Linked DNA regions of Homo sapiens. The protein of the gene in region 2 purifies or fractionates together with the protein of the main gene of each other region. This does not show direct contact. Each region holds a gene or a part of one and is shown on either strand. Other genes may lie near its edges.

The links. Proteins that work in one complex are often made in the same cells at the same time.
Region 1: the proteins of LOXL4 (region 2) and RPAP1 purify together in Homo sapiens (affinity purification with mass spectrometry; one large-scale study listed by BioGRID and IntAct). This does not show direct contact.

The regions. Positions count from the first base shown.
Region 1 is NC_000015.10:41,534,181-41,537,832, forward strand, and holds part of RPAP1 (RNA polymerase II-associated protein 1), read right to left. Parts: intron 3,022-3,652; 5' UTR 2,946-3,021; coding exon 2,765-2,945; intron 2,470-2,764; coding exon 2,321-2,469; intron 2,039-2,320; coding exon 1,949-2,038; intron 1,453-1,948; coding exon 1,332-1,452; intron 756-1,331; coding exon 534-755; intron 1-533. UniProt on the Homo sapiens protein: Forms an interface between the RNA polymerase II enzyme and chaperone/scaffolding protein, suggesting that it is required to connect RNA polymerase II to regulators of protein complex formation.
Region 2 is NC_000010.11:98,247,527-98,251,278, reverse strand, and holds the end of LOXL4 (lysyl oxidase homolog 4 precursor), read left to right. Parts: intron 1-102; coding exon 103-214; intron 215-2,287; coding exon 2,288-2,358; 3' UTR 2,359-3,589; downstream 3,590-3,752. UniProt on the Homo sapiens protein: Catalyzes the oxidative deamination of lysine and hydroxylysine residues in collagen and elastin, resulting in the formation of covalent cross-linkages, and the stabilization of collagen and elastin fibers.

The DNA.
Region 1 (3,652 bases), on a different chromosome or scaffold from region 2:
GCCGAGGAGGGCAGATCACCTGAGGTTGGGAGTTCGAGACCAGCCTGACCAACATGGAGAAACCCTACCTCTACTAAAAATAAAAAAATTAGCTGGGCGTGGTGGCAGATGCGTGTAATTCCAGCTACTCGAGAGACTGAGGTAGGAGAATCTCTTGAACCCGGGAGGCGGAGGTTGTGGTGAGCCGAGATTGTGCTATTGCATTCCAGCCTAGGCAACAAGAGTGAAACTCTGTCCCCCCAAAAAAAAAAAAAAATTAGCTGAGTGTGGTGGTGTGTGCCTATAATCCCAGCTACACAGGAGGCTGAAGTGGGAGGATTGCTTGAGCCGTGAAGGTGGAGGTTGCAGTGAGCCGAGATCGTGCCACTGCATTCCAGCCTGGGTGACAGAGCAAGACCATCTCAAAAAAAAAAAAAAAAAAAAAAAAAGCATTAAAGTACTCAGCACAGTGCCCGGAACTCACAGTAAGCCTAGCTCAATAAGTGGTATTCCTCTCCTAGCCTGGTCTCAGCAGGAAAGCCAGGCACCCATACCAAGCTGGGCCAGCAACCGCTGCTGTTCCTGCAGGATCTCCTCAGGAGCCATGGCCTGCAGTCTTGCTATGTTCTCTTCATGGATAGTCTGGGCTTCCTGCTCAGCTTCTTGATCCCTGAGCCCCTTCCCTGTGACCAGATTGGGTCCCTGAAAGCTGTGGCTGCTCCCAGGAAGCTGGCAGCCCTGGTTCCTAGGAGTGGGTGTCTCACAGGTCACGGCACCTGGAAGAAAGGTATGATCACATTCATTGCTCTGTCCTCCAGGGCTCTAACTGGGCTTTTTGGCCTTCTTCTATAAGGCTATTAGCCCTGGAGACAGGTATAGACCCAAACTTTCCTCAGAGTGGAGACCCCACTGGGTCTGGCACAGGGACTCCAGGTGGCTTCTCCACTCACTGCTTCCCTAGTACTTATATGAAAAGGTTTTCCTCAGAAACATCCTAATTTCTGACTCCTCTTAGATATCTAGGCAGGCATCTATAGCCAGGGGCCTGCTCCCAGCTGTTAAGCTAATAATTTGCATCATTAAAGGGATCTTGGCCAACACATTTATTTTACAGTCTCTGCCAGACACTTCTGCCCTATTCCCTTTCTCTTAGGACTGCATAATGGCCTGCCCCACTCCCAGCACCTGAGACCCAGATATGGACCCAAGCCTCCCATACCTAGTATTCTCAGACTACTTGAGATGGCTCAAATGCACCTCTCATTTGAGGCAGGAAGACATATCTTCAAAAATGACCCTATGATTGTGTCTTTTAAAAAGGCCAAGCCCAATCCTCTTCAACCCCGGCTCACCCTCTGGTGGGCCCACGTTGGGCACAACTTCCCCAACTGATGGGCCCTTGGCTTCAGCTATCCTCCTTGCCGCAATTTCCTGGGCAAAGATGCTTCTCTTACCAGATGTTGCTGATTTCCCCTGTGGGGCAAAAAGAAAACCCAGGTTACTGATGCTCATCATCCCACTTTCCTCTCAACCTCTTTATATCAAGGCCTCTGGAACAAAGAGATAAAAGGGGATTTGCTCAATTTCCAGGGATCACAACCCTAGTTCTCAGAAAAAGGAGAGGTCTATAAGAGTAAAGGTCTTAGACTCTGACAGACTTGGGTTGAAGTTCTGGCTCTTCTACCTATTAGATGTGTGGTGTTGGACAAGTTATTTATCTCTTTGGGGTCTCAGTTTCCTCATATGAAAAATGGGAATAAGGACTCCTCATCCCCAAGGTATCATCATGATACCTGCCTTATATGTTTGTTATGAAGATTAAAAGAAGTAATGGGTATGAAGTGCTTAGTATGATCCTGCTTTGTAAATTAAATTGCTTATCATCATTAAAACTACCTGCCTGGAGAAGATGCACTATGAGACTCACCTGTCTGTCTCCTGAGCACCACCTAAGCTTACCCTTGCCTACCTGTGTGTCCCGCGAGCGAAGGAACACAGCAGGGAAAGCAACACCACTGGGCACAGGCAGATTCACGGCCACTGAACTTGTATCTCGTTCCTGTAGCAACAAAGCACAAAGTTGTGAAGCACAATGGAGAAACTTCCCCAGGCTGGACCCGATCCTATTAGCCCAGTTCTGAACGATGAGAACCTCACTCTGGGGGGTTACGGACCCTCCTCCCTTCAGGGCAGTGATTCTAACCCAGCCCCCAACCTGACCTCAGGGGTAAAAGTCTACCTTTCTGAAGCACCCTCCACTGATAAGCCTCACCCACCCCGAGCATCCAATATCCCTGTTGCCCTAGAACATCTTATCCTACTCAGCCAGAGTGAGACGCACAATAATCTTAGTCAAGACAGCAGTGATGTGCTGATCATGCCTCCTCAGCCTCTCTTCTGGGTCCTCATCCTCAGGCAGGCAGTGGCCAGGGCTGGGCCTGGCTCTCTTTGGAGGAGAAGGGACCAAAGCTGGGGGCAAATCTGGGAGATCTGAGAAAGAAAAGATCCCAAACGTGAGTATATGCACACCTTCCTAGGAAGACACTGCAGGCTAGGGAAGAAAGACAGCTGCCATGGGGCCCTGGCTCAAGCTGTGTCATCTTGGGTAAGATATTTAACCTCTTTGAGCCTCATTTTCTTCCTCTGTAAAATGGGGCTGCAGAAACACAGGCTATGCAGTGTCTGAAATAATAATGATGTGTCTGAATCCAACCACAACAGGAAGAGGGAGGGGCCCGAGGCTGTACCCTCTCTACTTCTCAGCCTCACATCCATGGGAACTCACTGTCCAACATCACCACATCCCGATGGTCCTGGAGCGGAGGCCGGTCTGAGTTGGCATCACCACCGCCCCTATTTCCTTTCTTCACCAACTGCACTGCTGGGGCTGCACCAGCTGCGAGAAACTGACTCTGGAAGTGCAGCAGGTCCACCTCGGACTCCCCTGGCTTCGGTCTCGACAGCATCTTGCTGCTCCAGCTGCCTCCCCAGTACGACTCTCTCCAGCAGTGTCTCCGTGTGGGGGTTCCCTCTTATTCATCCCTAAGAGCAAGAAAGAATATGGGCCCTCTGCAACTGAACCCTGATTCTCTTTATTGGGCAACAGCGAAGATCTTCTTTATCCTTGGGTTAACATGAACTCATTCCTCCTCATTCATACCTTACTGCCATTCCCTCTGTCTTCAGCCCTCCCTGATGTCATCAGCCTAGCAACAATATTTATAGCCAACTTAGGTTGTTTACAATCTATAGGTGATAAAACTCTCAGGAACAACCAGCAGGAGACCTGAGGAAAATGTCATCAGGGGCCGAGCAGATAAATGTTGTCATAATGGGGGGGTGATGATTCTGTATCAAACTGGAGAGAACATGCTTGGCCTAAAGGTATGTAAATTATTAAAAACCTTGGGCTGTAAAATATCAATATAAAAAACATTTGTGGCCAGGCGCAGTGGCTCACGCCCGTAATCCCAGCATTTTGTAAGGCCGAGGAGGGTGGGTCACCTGAGGCCAGGAGTTCAAGACCAGCCTGGCCAACATGGTGAAACCCCATCTCTACTAAAAATACAAAAAATTAGCTGGGCATTGTGGTGGGCGCCTGTAATCCCAGCTACCTGGGAGGCTGAGACAGGAGAATCGCTTGAACCTGGGAGATGGAGGTTGCTGTGAGCCG
Region 2 (3,752 bases):
TTAATGAAGCAAATAGAAACACATGTAAGGATTATCACAGCCACAGTCAACTCATTCAGAAACCAAATCACCCATTTTCAGTTGTCCCCTCTTTCACTCTAGGTGATTGTGAACCCCCACTATGAAGTGGCAGAGTCAGATTTCTCCAACAATATGCTGCAGTGCCGCTGCAAGTATGATGGGCACCGGGTCTGGCTGCACAACTGCCACACAGGTAACTCCGAGCCACTGTGGAATCAGCCATCTATAGGCTCAGGGAGCTGGAACACTGTAAATGTACCCTCTGCTCCCACACTCCAGCGTGTGACTTGTATGTGTGTGGTGTGCAAAAGGCTATGGATGGAACAGAGATGCATTTCCTTTGACATCTTACAAGGCAGACTTCTAGAACTGGTCAGACCATCGGCTTCACCCAATAACTACATCTTCTACATCCCTGTTTGCACTTAAGGCTGTTTGATTGTAAACTCAGTTTCCAATCTGTTCTAGAATCTTTCCTGTCACCTCAAGCCATGTCAGGATTTTCAAGTCCATTATTTTTCCTTTCTCTTTCATATAGAAGTTAGGGTTAGGGTCCTCACAGGCAAAAGTAGTCCTCTTGCTCTGTGTTGCTGTCTCCAGCTGTGATCACTGCTTGCAAGAAGGGGACCATGGAAAACAGAGCCACTTACAGGATTGGTAGCATCAGTCAAAGGAAGCATCATGATCCAGTGGGGGCAGAGAAGAGGGGCTGTTCTGTCAGTAAAGACTCCCTCTATCTTCAAGGGTTAAAAATGCCCATATTTGCTATGGGATATGCATTCACTCATACTTGCATATGTGCGGTGGGATGGGGCAGAGTTGTTCATTTAGTCAACAAACATTTACTAAGGCTCACTATTGTGTTGAACGCTGTGCCCCAGAAACTGGGAATGTAAGTGTCAGATAGGGTATGCACACATGCAAATAGCCCCAATACTACTAATGTGTGGACTGAATGCTGAGCAAGCACAGACAGAAAGCAACCTGTTGGGGGCTAGCACAAGCTTCACAGAAGTAGTATTTGATCTGAGGTTTGAAGGAGGAGCCAAAGTCAAACATGGGAGGAGTAGAGAAAGAGCACAGGACTGGGCTTTGGAAGGCGTCACCCGAATCCAGTCCCACCACTTTCTAGCTGGAGGACAGTGAGGAAATCACGACCTGAGTTTTCTGTTTTGTAAAATGGGGCTGTATACTTCAAACTTACTAAGTACTAGAGCTTTTTGCAGGGAGGGTTGTGATAGTTCTAAGATAATGGATTTTATCCCGTGGGCTTCTGGGAACTATTGACAAATTTCAGTCAAGGAGGCAAAAGATCATTTAGGTTTTCAAAAAATAACTGTGGCAACAGATGGACGAAAATGAGAAGAGGAAGAACAGTCTAAGGTTTCGAATTTGTGTGGCTGAGTAGATTGTGCTGCCACTTAAATGAAACAGGGATATTGAGAGGAACCAGGAACTGGAATCCAAGGCTACGCACACGGAGACAGCAGATCCTCCATAATGCTAGAATCAGGCTGCAAGGGTTCCCAGGCAGTGACAAGGGCAAGAAAAATAATGCAGTCCTGCAGGTCCTCTTGCCAGTGTTTAGGATCCAACAGGGCTAAACAGAAGTGTGCGGAAAACAGAAGGCACACTCGGGTGAGAGTCTGAGTTTATTTAATTAAAGGACTATTTATAAGAAAACAAGGAGTGTTGAGACATCAAGCATAAAGAAAGTAGAAAACCGTTATCTGCTTTAGGCTTGAAGAGGGGCAAGGGCTGCTTTGCAGCCAGGTGCAAGCCAGAGTTGTGAAGGAGGGTGAACCTAGCTGGAACAGGAGTCACAGACCATCACTGCCAGAACCACAGGGCCAAAGTAGGGGAAGGAATATCCGGCCTCTCTCCTTCCACCCTCTGACCTTCTGCTGTTGCTTTCCATTGACCCAACTCAAACAAACAAAAAAAGAGGACAAAGGAGCCAGAGTGATGTAATCGCTAGGCATCAGCTTCCTAGGGCACAGAGGGAAAAAAGGGCAGAGAATGAACCTGGGGAGGGGGGCAAAGGAGAATAACTAGCACAACTCTTTCCAATCAATAGCCTGTTCTTCCTGATGTTCCTGAAACCACACACCTGTCCCAGGCCTATTTCTATAAAATGATTGGTGTCTGTGCCCATGCCATGACTTGATATAAAGGATGAGCTGGGCAGAGTGGATCTATGTAAGTTGTCAGGGAAGGGATGAGACTGGAAAGGTTGGCTACTTACCTGTTTTCCTTTGGCCCACAGGGAATTCATACCCAGCCAATGCAGAACTCTCCCTGGAGCAGGAACAGCGTCTCAGGAACAACCTCATCTGAAGCTGTCACTGCACACTCCTAGCTGCTGCCGATACACCAGATACCTCAGCTTATTGGAGCCATGCCCTTCACAGAGTCCCAACTCAGAGGAAAAGGGCCAGTGCCAAGGGGCACCAAGAACCTGCTCAGGAAGCCTTTTGATGGCAAGATCACCAATCCAGATGGTATTGCTCCCTCAGGATGGCTCTGGGCCTGCCCCTAAGGGCCTGTGGCCTATGGAATATGTCCTCCAGGCTTTGCTCAGCTGAGCTCCTCTTCTGTAAGGAAACCCAGTCATCCCTGAATCTTGCCACAGAGATCCGGGATTCAGGAGCTCTCAGTTTCTTAGGGATGGACTATGGCCCAGTCCCCCATCTAAGTGGTGCTTTGCAAATGTCTTGGAGGAGTATAGGACAGAGGACCAAAATACACAGCAGGTAGTGTTAGCTCTCTGCTAGGAGCTCAAAGCAACACAACTTGTATCAAAATCACAACTGGCAGAGAAGCTGGTGGATCCAATCCTTTCTTCATCTGTTGTTATTTAGAACTCACCTCTCACACTCTGTTCTTTAGTGTCCTTACCTTTATCTTACCACACACATGGGTGTTTCTATTATCCTTGGAAGCACAGACCTCGGGCATCCCCTTATTGCCTGATGGGCCAACACCAACAGTTACGGAGTGCTTGAGAAGGGGCAAGTTTCACAGAAATGGCCAGATAGGGCCTTCCTACAGAGCAGCAAGAGTAGGCCAAGCAGAAAGACTGCTGAGGTAACACGGACCCCAGCCCCTGTCAGGGCCTCTGCCAAGGAAATAATATGGACCATTTACCTGGCAGGCAGTCTGCTCTCTCTCAGGATCACCACGCATCTCAGGATTGGTCTAAACTTCAAGTCTCAACCAAGTGTCTGAAGTGAACTTTGCATTGAATAAATTTTTGCCATGGAAAGAACATCAAACAAGCCACTCATCTCTACAGAGATAAGAAAACAAGTTTGGCAGAGCAAGAGACAGAAGACCGTGGAGAAATCAGAAGGGGGAACAGTCAGTTTAGTTAAGGATGGAACCTGGGAAAGGCCACCATTCCTGCTTGATGGGGCTCTGATTTGCTCTTGCTCAAGTGGAATAAAACCCCATGGTCTTCTTGACATGATTCTTGATCTTTTCTCCACTGAGACACACTTAAGTGATGATCCTTACAGGACTGACACCCTAATGCCAATAAAAGTTGCTCATTATGGACTGCTACAAAGACCAGACCAGCTGTGATTATGTACACACCCCAGAACCACAGACCTACCCTTTTGCCTCCCATGGAGCCAGGGCCTGGGATACACAGGGCACACATGCTTCTCATGACTGCCCATCTACATTTCTCCAATCAGACATAAGTCTGCTTCCCAGTCAGCCTCCCC